Linked DNA regions of Homo sapiens. The protein of the gene in region 3 purifies or fractionates together with the protein of the main gene of each other region. This does not show direct contact. Each region holds a gene or a part of one and is shown on either strand. Other genes may lie near its edges. The genes, in order: UFSP2, CKAP5 and BTN3A3.

Evidence for each region.
Region 1: the proteins of BTN3A3 (region 3) and UFSP2 purify together in Homo sapiens (affinity purification with mass spectrometry; one large-scale study listed by BioGRID and IntAct). This does not show direct contact.
Region 2: the proteins of BTN3A3 (region 3) and CKAP5 purify together in Homo sapiens (affinity purification with mass spectrometry; one large-scale study listed by BioGRID and IntAct). This does not show direct contact.

The regions. Positions count from the first base shown.
Region 1 is NC_000004.12:185,408,832-185,412,485, reverse strand, and holds part of UFSP2 (ufm1-specific protease 2), read left to right. Parts: intron 1-72; exon of another isoform or gene 73-3,654. UniProt on the Homo sapiens protein: Thiol-dependent isopeptidase that specifically cleaves UFM1, a ubiquitin-like modifier protein, from conjugated proteins, such as CD274/PD-L1, CYB5R3, DDRGK1, MRE11, RPL26/uL24, TRIP4 and RPL26/uL24.
Region 2 is NC_000011.10:46,759,241-46,762,894, forward strand, and holds part of CKAP5 (cytoskeleton-associated protein 5), read right to left. Parts: intron 3,523-3,654; coding exon 3,387-3,522; intron 3,260-3,386; exon of another isoform or gene 3,149-3,259; intron 2,954-3,148; coding exon 2,760-2,953; intron 1,545-2,759; coding exon 1,372-1,544; intron 203-1,371; coding exon 29-202; intron 1-28. UniProt on the Homo sapiens protein: Binds to the plus end of microtubules and regulates microtubule dynamics and microtubule organization. Acts as a processive microtubule polymerase. Promotes cytoplasmic microtubule nucleation and elongation. Plays a major role in organizing spindle poles.
Region 3 is NC_000006.12:26,450,350-26,453,915, reverse strand, and holds the end of BTN3A3 (butyrophilin subfamily 3 member A3 isoform a precursor), read right to left. Parts: intron 2,242-3,566; coding exon 1,505-2,241; 3' UTR 501-1,504; downstream 1-500. UniProt on the Homo sapiens protein: Plays a role in T-cell responses in the adaptive immune response.

The DNA.
Region 1 (3,654 bases), on a different chromosome or scaffold from region 3:
ACCTTCTGAGCGTCCAGGACTTTTGAGGAAATCTTAAGAATTAAAAAAATGCATATACGATACAGTACGTACCCTAGATGAGTTAGGGGCCCACTTGTGGTCTTGGTCATTAGAGTGTACTCAGGGCAGCAGATCATCTGCAAAAGCTGTGGGCCAACCAGCTTCCATAGAAAGTTCCTCACAAAAAGAATAGTTCCTTAGAAGAACCTGGACACACAGAAGGTATTGAATGAGTACTGATTGCTTTTTGACAATAAAATAGGTTCATTATATCTGTATTACAAGGTCGTAAGAAAAATATATACTTTACATATTTATCATGTAATATTTGATATGTACATATAACATATGCAAATTGTAAAGCACAGTGGGGAAATGAATACCAGGGAGCTCCTCCCTAATTTAAGAAGCAAAACTTTACCAGTCTGTGCTCTTTCCCTACCCACTCCTCTGCCTCCTCGACACAGTTCCAGGAGGAACTATTATGGGTTTTGTGTTCATCATTTCCTTCCTTTTTAAAAAGTAGTTTCAGCGTATATGTTACATATCAATCTCAGCAATGTCGCTTTTAGTATTGCATAGTTCTGAGTTTTATAAATATGGTATCATTCTGTACGTAGTCTCTGCAGCTTGCTTTTTCACTCAATATTACATATCAAACATCTCTGGTATTTTGTCTAACCATAGTTAATTATCTTTATGATTTTTTCCAAGTTTTTTTGCTGTTTAGACAATGAACATTCCTATACCTCTCGATACATATGTGCAACAGTTGTTAACATTTTGCTATATCTGCTTCATTTCTCCCTCTTTTTTCCCCCTCTGAACCATTTCAAGGAAAATTATAGATATATTATTTACCCTTAAATACTTTGGCACAAATCTCTCAACAATATAGATGTGCATTCATGAAATAAACTCGGTTTGGTTATGACTCATTATTTTTTATTCCCCTCTGGATTCCATTTGCTAATATTTTACGATTTTTGCATCTATGTTCGTGAATGATACTGGCTTATAATTTTCTTCTCTCATACTGTTCTTATTTTGTTTTTTTATTAGTGATATACTGGTTTACTAAATTAGTTAGGTTAATGTTCCTTTTTTAGTTTTTTAGAGAAGTTTATATAAGAGTGGTATGATCTTTCCTTGGTCATTTGGTAAAACTTGCCTGTAAAACAATTTTGGCGTAGCATTTTCTTTGTGAGAAGATTTTTAGTAACCAATTTAGTTTTGGTAACAGCTTTAGGACTTTTTGATTTTTATAAGTTATTTACCTAGGTTTTAATATATCTTGTAGTCATAATATTTTCTTTTTCATTCTTCATATCATTTTTATGCCTTGTGTCTTTTAAAAAAAAAAAAACTTTTGGCTTTGTTGGCCCCCTCTATTATAACTTCTGTATTTGATTTTATTAATTTTTGCTCTTTACTTTCTTTTTTTTTGCTCTTTCTTTGATTTATTGTCTTTCTTCTAACTTCTTAAGTTGGACATGTTAGCTTATTGCTAATATTTCTTTCTTTCTTTTTTTTTTTTTTTGAGATGGAGTCTTGCTCTGTTGCCCAGGCTGGAGTGCAGTGGCACAATCTTGGCTCACTGCAACCTCCGCCTCCTGGGTTCCAGCGATTATCCTCCCTCAGCCTCCCAAGTAGCTGGGATTACAGGAGGGTGCTACCACGCCTAGCTCATTTTTGTATTTTTTAGTAGAGATGGGGTTTCACCGTATTGGCCAGGCTGGTCTCAAACTCCTGACCTCGTGATCTGCCTGCCTCAGCCTCCCAAAGTGCTGGGATTACAGGCGTGAGCCACTGCGCCCGGCCTAATCTTTCTTTTTTTTGAGATGGAGTCTTGCTCGGTTGCCCAGGCTAGAGTGCAGTGGCATGATCTCAGCTCACTGCAACCTCTGCCTCCCTGGTTCAGGCAATTCTCCTGCCTCAGCCTCCCCAGTAGCTAGGATTACTGGCAATAGCCATACGCCTGGCTAATTTTTGTATTTTTAGTAGAGACAGGGTTTCATCATGCTGGCCAGGCTGGTCTCGAACTCCTGACTTTAGGTGATCTACCCACTCGGCCTCCCAAAGTGCTGGGATTACAGGCATGAGCCACCGTGCCTGGACAGCTTTCTTATTTTCTAATGTAAGCTTTTAAATTTCAAGCAAAGCACTGCTTTTAGTGTATCTTATAGGTTTAATTTGAAGGATTTTAGTTTTGTTCACTTCTAAGTATTTTTATATTTTTCTATTATGGTTTTTCTTTTGTCCATGTATTATTTAGAAGTGTTTGTTAATGTCCAAATATGTCAGAATTTATTTTTCTTTTTTGCTTTTTTTTTCTTCTTGTTTTAACTGGTTTCTGACTCTTGCCTCCTGGTCAGAAAGAATTCTAAGTGAAACTAACTCTGAAATTTATTGAAACTTGTATTTGTTCCCTAAAAAATAATAACATATTTGATGGCTTAAAACTACAAAAATGTATTGTCTCAGTTCTGGAGTTCTGAAAGTAGTATCACTGGGCTGACATCACAATGTCAGCAGGACCACCTTCCCTCCATAGGCTCTTGGGGAGAATCCATTCCTTAATCTGATGGCTGCCAGCATCCTTTGGTTTGTGGCCCCATCATTCCGATCTCTGCCTCCTCAGTCACATTACCTTCTCCTCCTATGCCCCTCTCTTTTAAGAATATATGTGATTGCATTTAGGGCACACTAGGATCCAGGATAACCTCCCCATCTTAAGATCCTTAATCACGTCTATGAATACCTTTGCTTTCCTTTTTTCTTTTACTTTTTGGCACAGAGGGTGCATTCACAAGTTCCAGGGATTAGGACATACATACCTTTTGGGAGCCACTTTTCAGCCTGTCACAATGGTCAAGTTATAAATTTTTCTATCTGTGCTTGGGCAGAATATATATTCTCTAATTGTTGGGTGAGGGTTGGTTCTATCTTGTCCCTATCTCCTCTCACTTAATTTTTTAAAAATATCATCAGTTTGGAGCCAGGCATGGTGGTGTGCAACTGTAATCCCAGCTACTCAGGAGGCTGAGGCAGGAGGATCACTTGAGCCTAGAAGTTCAAGACCAACCTGAGCAACATAGTGTGACCCAATCTCAAAAAAATAAAAACAAAAACCCAGTTCTTTAATAAAAAAAGACATATACATTCTTAGCACTATAAGTAAGAATTTATATGATATTAGTAATTTATTTATCTTTATTTTTTGACCCTTAACTTAGCGTCATCAAATAACATACTTGGGCTGTAATCATAGCAGGTTTATAAATTTAGACACATTCTTCCTGTGTCCCATGATATGGACCCTTCATTTGTTTGTTCATTCCTTTATTCCTTCCTTCATTCATTCAGCATTTATTCAGCAGCATTTATATTAACCGTGTGCCAGGCGTGTTGTAGAAGCTTGGGCCCAAAAATGGATAAGACACAGTGTATGTACTCACTGAGCTCACATATTAGTGTAAGTAGGCAGATATTTTTTAAATGATAAGTAATGTATCATTTAAAGTATATCAAGTCATGATATACTTTGAAAAATAAAAACATAAAGAGGACAGAGATGACAGGTGAGGCAGGGGGTGGGGTAGTGAGAGAATGAGTGGGCCGTTTGTAGACTGGATGGTCAAGGAAGACCTTTGA
Region 2 (3,654 bases), on a different chromosome or scaffold from region 3:
CATATTTAAATGAAAGAGTTTAACTCACTTGGGTTCAGGAATAAGGACTGGCTCAAAAATGTCATCCAGTTTGTGCTGAACAAGTTCTGGCATTTCACATCGGACTGTACCATTGTCATTCTCAATCTCATCTAGATCCAGCTGGAATTCTCGGCGGACCATCTGGGCTGCCTCAGGATGCCCACTCATGCTTCGGGCTTGGCTAAGGGAAGCAAAAGGAGGCTCCTGAACTAAAAGAGACTTCTTAACCAAAGGGCAAGAGTAGCACTGTCAGTTGCCCCAAAGCTTCAGGACAGATGTTCAACTTCTGGTTTCAGCCCCCCTGAATGATTTAAGTCCCTGAGTCTAAGCAAGTGCCTTTAATAGGTAACAACATTGGTTCATGAATATCCTAAGAGGGCAGATAACTTTAATTTGTACTTACATTACCTGCCAAGTTATAAGTATTTGTTCTAGTTCACTAAAGCCAACAAACCTTGTATTTCTATTCCTGAAGGGGCAGAAAACAATAAAATATATTTGTATTGACTCAAAGTTCACTACTTATGAGCAAATATATAAGAAAAATTTAGACTGGCTGGTTCTTTTCCACCAAATTAACCAGTGCTTTAATTTTGCTAATCATAAGTACCATTCCATGCCGTGTTCAGCACATTTTATATTTTGTGAGACCACCAGTCACCCCTTTTTAGAATATTCACTCTTGACAGGTCAGGGCCAGCTTTACATCCAAGAAATAGGGATTCAAAGTTTCCAAATTCAAGTTCGTTAAAATTATACTCATGACACAACCCAAAATAGAGCTGTCTTGCTTAGGAGGCAGTATTTTGAGTCCCTAAGCCAATTTTGGGTTGCATGTATTTTAATTAGCCTTATCTCAAGAATAGGAAACTAAGCACAACCAAGTATAACACAAAGAAGAAAGTGAATCAGTATTTTAGCCACATGACATTGAACTTTTGTGGAAGACTTGATTCATGGGGTACTTATGGACACCCTCTACCCTGATTATAAACTCTAAGCTAGTCACCCTCCAGAGGGGATGAATCCAAGTCAGAAGTTAGAAAGATATAAGAGCCCTGCTAATGAGAAATTAGCAGGCAGTACTTACATCCTATAAGTGCGATACATAATTCTGTCCACGGAAAAGCAGTGAAAGAAGGCACAAGACCATTTAGAAGTGGTTTTGAGACAAAGACAAAGACAATGAAGACTGAAGAATCAAACATTTGGTTACAATACATTTACCCAGACACTCTGTCATGCATGATAATGGCTACAAGAACTCAAGATTATGTTACAGGACAGGCTGTGAGCACACAAGGCAAAGGCCATGGAGATGCTCTCAGACAAGTATCTCTATCTACATACTTGAGTTTGGAAGACATGTCCTCAGCTGGTCCCTTGCGTAACATGTTGGCATTGGAGCTTATGTTCTGTGCACGCTGAGGTTTCTCTTCCACCTGTTTTATTGGTGCAGCAGAGGGTCTCTTTGCTGACCGCTTAATCCTCTCCTCGAGCATGCTCATATCCTTTTCAGAAAGCTGTAAAGAGGCCAAATTTAGAAACCTAACTGGATAACACAATAATATCTATTTTCATATCAAAACAAATAGAACCTTCTATGTTAGGACATGTTTACTTTCAAAGCACCACATTTCAAAATCAACTACTATTAATACCTGCCTAGCTGCTATAGGAAGAGGAGATATGAAAGAAGGAGAGGGGCTGGGCACAGTGGCTCATGCATGTAATCCCAGCACTTTGGGAGGCCAAAGCAGGAGGATCACTTGAGCCCAGGAGTTTGACACCAGCTTGGGCAACATGGTGAAACCCCATCTATACATAAAGTATAAAAATAAGCTGGGTGTGGTGGCACGCGCCTGTAGTCCTTGCTACTCAGGAGGCTGAAGTCAGAGGATCACTTGAGCCTGGGAGGTCGAGGCTGCGGTGAACCATGATCACACCACTGCACTCCAACCTAGGTGACAGAGCAAGACCCTGTCTCAAAAAAAAAAAAAAAAAGAAACGATAAAAAAAAGAAAGCCAATTAGTAACTACAAATAAAAAGGTCAAAAATTAAATGAAGCTTCCTCATTTTTTGTTTTGTCACCACTATCTAGCTGTGTGACTATGGGCAAGAAACTTCATTTTTGGTCATCTGTAAAATTCCCAACTGCTTTATATTCTTCACTGGGTAGTAGTGAGAATTTAATTAGAAAATATAAGTAAACATATTTAAGCCCTGTGTAAATACATGGTGACACTATGAGGTAACTGAAGACGGAGGTCCAGACTCACTCAAACGAAATAAGAGGTCAGAGGCAGAACCTAATGTGAGTGAAAAACTGGCTCACGGCTGTAGCGCAAGATGTGATCTGACAGATACTAGCATCCACACTATACACAAATAAGCACTTTTTAACCAAAAACTCGATGCAGTAAAAATTACAGAGCAGACTGCCAGGCAGAATTTAAACCCGGGACTAGCTCAGATTTCTTGATTCAAAAATAGCACTCATTTCTAAAGCAAATTTGCTATGAATAGAATGCTCAGAAAAGAAAACTTGATTTCCATTAAAACAGCCTAATCAGAGACACCTCAAGGGTCTATCTGGATTCTAGGACACATTGATAGGTTGAGTTGACTAAAAAGTAGTAAAAACTTAGCTACAGTTGAGAGGACAGGAAACCTAACACCTAGGAGATCTTGCAATTCTTTTCACGACATGCTGACAGTGTTCAGAGAAGTCACTCACATTTCCAATCAGTTTGAACACCTGATCCCCATGTACATTGTACACCGTTACAATGGTGTTGAGTGCAGCATTGCGTACAGCATTGTCACGGTCTCCTATGTGAACAGCTATTTCCTTTAAGGCTTTTCCTGGGGTTGGTTGGCAAACATTCATGCCATAGGACTCAACCAGACATCCCAGCTCTTCCAGGCACTCTGATGGGGGAGAAAGGCTAGATTAATGAGACAACACATATTTGGGACAGAGACTTATCCTTACTAGAGAAATTTCCCTTGGCATATATGAAGGACTAAAACCTTACTCTGGCTCTGCCTAGGATTTTTTGTTTACTGCCTTTTATCAGTGAAAAAATGGTATTTCAGCAAGTGCTCCTGAAAGGAAGAGATGCCTGTGAGTCAGATGGCCCCTGTGCACTTGATTTTGTCACCAGGGTGATACTGAGTGGTGCCTGTATCACCTGATACCATGGCTCCACCAGTGTGCAACTCATCACTCTCACAGTCTAAATCAGGAGGTTGGAATCAACTACATAGGCACTGGAGAAATTTATTTGTTCATCTATAAACTATTTCTTCTATAGGCTACTGCTGCAGAGATTCACATCTCAGTTTAAACTGTTTGCTTCACCTGCTCTCTGCTTAGAGTTTTTGGATTTGGTTCCTTCCATGATAAAGGGAAACATCTTGCTAGCTGGGTAGACAAGGCACATCCGGTTCAGGATGGCACGAACATCTTTACGAATGACATCCTTTGGTTCTCCAACCTAGTCGATAAGGAAAATAATGATTAAGTGAGGCATTTCCTAAGTAGCAATGATTCTCCCATGCATTACTATGTTTTGAAAGAATAGGGAAATAGGGATAAGTAGGGAAGGTACCGTGATATAATCAGTAAA
Region 3 (3,566 bases):
AATAAATTTGTGTTGCTTTAAGTTCATGAATTTCTGAAGCCAGGCGCGGTGGCTCATACCTGTAATCCCAGCACTTTGGGAGGCCGAGGTGGGTGGATCACAAGGTCAGTAGATCGAGACCATCCTGGACAACATGGTGAAACCTCGTCTGCACTGAAAACACAAAAAATTAGCCAGGCGTGGTGGCACGCACCTGTAGTCCCAGCTACTCGGAAGGCTGAGGCAGGAGAATCACTTCAACCTGGGAGGTGGAGGTTGCAGTGAGCTGAGATCGTGCCACTGTACTCCAGCCTGGGAGTACAGTGGCACAATCCAATCTCAAAAAAAAAAAAATGTCTATACATTTCTGGTAATTCAGATGGCAACAACAGAAAATGCATCCAATAAGGGTCTTGTGAAAATGCTGCAGTGAGGTAAACTGAGACTGTGGTGAGTACAGTGGGTGTGCAGACTACTGTGCTGAGTAGACACCACAGTCTAGAAAAAGCCAAGCTGAGGAGTAAGCATTATTAACACATTTATTGAACAACTAGAACTTGACAACCACTTGCCAAGTAGAGGGGATACAGTGGTGAGCAATAATAGTGATGATAATGAGGAGCAGTTTTCCCTAGCAGGCAGCAGTTGAAAGGAATATGGGTTTAACATCCACCAATGACCAGGAGTGGACAGACCTATTTCCAGGAGACTGAGTCCATAGTGGGATTAAAAACATCCCTGTAATTCTTTTAGCTTCCTTGATCCAAATTTCCTATATCACAGAGAATCTCTAGGGTATTTGCTCTGCCTGGAAACCTTGATTGAAGGAAGGCTGGCTCTGGCTGCACAATCACTTATCACATTTGTTGGGTGGGAACATATCTGTGCCCCATGATTTATCAAGTGTGGCCTCTAGTCTCTTTCCAAGTCACATGTCATGTTGGTACTATGAGGTTATTCTCTCAACCAAGACACTCTGCAGAGCTAATCCAAGGAGTGCTGGGTCTAAGTCTCTGATATCAGCTGGGAAAGAGTCAATAGGGATGTCAACTCCACAAGCACTTAAAATGATCTCTACCCTGCAGCTGTCCTGGGAAGGAAACCTCAGGGCTACATGTGGGCTCTTCCTGTGGGAAAAAAAATCAGGCTGGAAAAGAACAGGCAATTAGCCAGGGACTAAGGCTGAACATCTCCCAACTGCACAAATTACTGTATGAGTTATGTAAGTTACTTCATGTTGCCCTGCCTCAGCTTCCATACTTGCAAAATATGACTACCCGACAGGGTGTTGTGAGGATTAAAGGAGTGACATCCACCAAAGCTTATAACACAGCACTAAGAACATTTTAAATTCTCTGTTAATGTTAGTTATTGCTGTTTAGATCCCAGCTCTGCTGTTCACTTGTCATGTCTACTTTGTAAAGTTAATTCACCTTTCTGCACCCCAGTTTCCTTATCTGTATAAGGGGACAATAAGGTGGTACGAAACTCAAAACAACTGTCATATGGAATAATGGAATGAATATCAGTAAAGTGCTTCAGTGCGTGCCTGTAGCTTATGGTTCTGATTGGTTGTTGCAGAAGGGGAGACCTCAGCTCCAGGGTGGGCAGGGAGAAGCAGAGATGTTACTTCAGCCTGAGGCTCCCCACTTTCATTAGCTAAGCCCGGGGTCAGTGGTGTCTCCAGGGAATGATCAGGCACTAGGTCAGGATCGGGGGAACTCTCTACTTCTTTTGGTATTGGGCAAATGGTCAGGGCAGTGGGCTCCAAGGTCAAAATTCTGAAAACAGGATATAGAGGCTCAGAGAAAGAGGCGTGCGGAAAGGTGTAGATATGAGATCCATCTGTGGCATTATAGAACGAGATCTCTCCAGTCTCATAGTCCAGGAAGATCCCCACTTTCCTAGGAGGCTCAGGAAGTTTCAGGTTGGTTCTGGGCTCAGTGAGAGCCCGATACTTATTCCCATCAGTCAGGCCCATAGTCCAGTATCCGTTCTCCGGTGTCATTTTGACCCAACCTTTTTTCCTCTCCACGTTCTTACTACATACCCCAATATGCCACTCTTTTCTGTCCCCCACTTCCACCTCCCAGTAATGTCTCCCTGATGTGAAGTTTTCACAGCCAAGGACACAGTAACGCCATTCAAATCTCTCAGGGTTGTCTGGCAGATCCCGCGGCTCTTCAGCACGCTGCACACTCCTCTGGTCCTCAGAAACAAGGAGGATGGCGTTTGCCGTGTCTGGATCCAGAATCACATCCGCTGCAGAGAGTTTGAGGAGGTGTCCATGGGGTCAGCCATTTTTCCTGGATTTCAGAGCCTCAGCATGCAAGGCCTGGACCATGCTAAGGAGGTCCTTCCAGAACCTGGCGTCCCTAGCCTGCTCTAAATATGACTCTCTCATCAATGTCATGGGAGAAAGCTCAAGGGGTCTTGTGTCCAGAGGGGAAATGAAAGTAAGGTCAGTATCTGCCTAACCCAATACCCTGATGCTGCCTCAGGAAGCAATAAGGATCCTCTTGCTACATTTTTCTTGTTTCCCTCCCCACATTGACTCTGCCCCCTAATGCCTTATACTCAGAGGTTAATTTTCAATCTTCACTCGACCGCTTATGAACTAAATGAGCTCCCCTTTTCTGCAGTCTATTTTTCCATACATCCAATTTATTTAACAAGGTGGAGCCTCATCTGAAGCATTTTGTCACCTGAAAAATGGGGATAAAAATATGACTCTCTAGCGTAGTATAGGGGAATCATGTTATTTACTCAGCCCACAGCAGGGCATGAAGGAAGCTCCTGATGTTCTAATAGCTGCAAGGCCGTCTCTATGCTGGGCTCTATGAGGGGCCCCAGATTCACTCTCCAGCCTTCAGCTTTTTCCACCCTCTTCTGGGTCCTAGGAATCTGTACTCTAAGGATAGTGCCACTGGGCTCCCTTGTCTTCTGGTTTGCTGTTGGGTTTGGCCAATGGGAGGCCCTGATAGAAGATTGGAAGGAGAAAGAAAGGAGAGACACACTGTTTATTCTCCTGCTTCCTCCCTGCCAGCAGCAGCTGATGCTACTCTAACAAGGCCTGACGACTCTTCTCAGGGAGCCCTCTCTTTTGAGCTACTTTTCTCTGGGTTCCAGTAACTGCCTCCCCTTCCTAGACCTCCCAGGCTAGGAGTGAAGACAGCTCCCCACTGTTGGGAACCATGGGGGCACTGCACTTTTCCTTATTGCTTACCCTTATCCCTCCTTTCCGCAAACCTTTTTCAACCAACCAGTTTGAACTTGTCATCTCTTTCTTACTTGGTTTTTGACCAGTGGATATTTATTATTACTTCAGTCTTCACCTCACCCCCACAAAACACAGATTGCAATTTTCATTTAAAAATGTGGAGGCGAAAGCTCGGAAGCATTAAATCATTTGAGGTGACACAGGCAGTAGGGGGCATGAGAAGCCTGGGAAGTGCAAAGTTCTTTGGGCAGGCATCACCTCCTCTCCTTGGCATTTGCATCCTCACTCTCCCTGCAGTATCACTCAGTGTGTGTCTCCTTCCCCTCAGCTCCACCCTTTATGTGTCTTCCTTCCCAGGAAGGTCTGA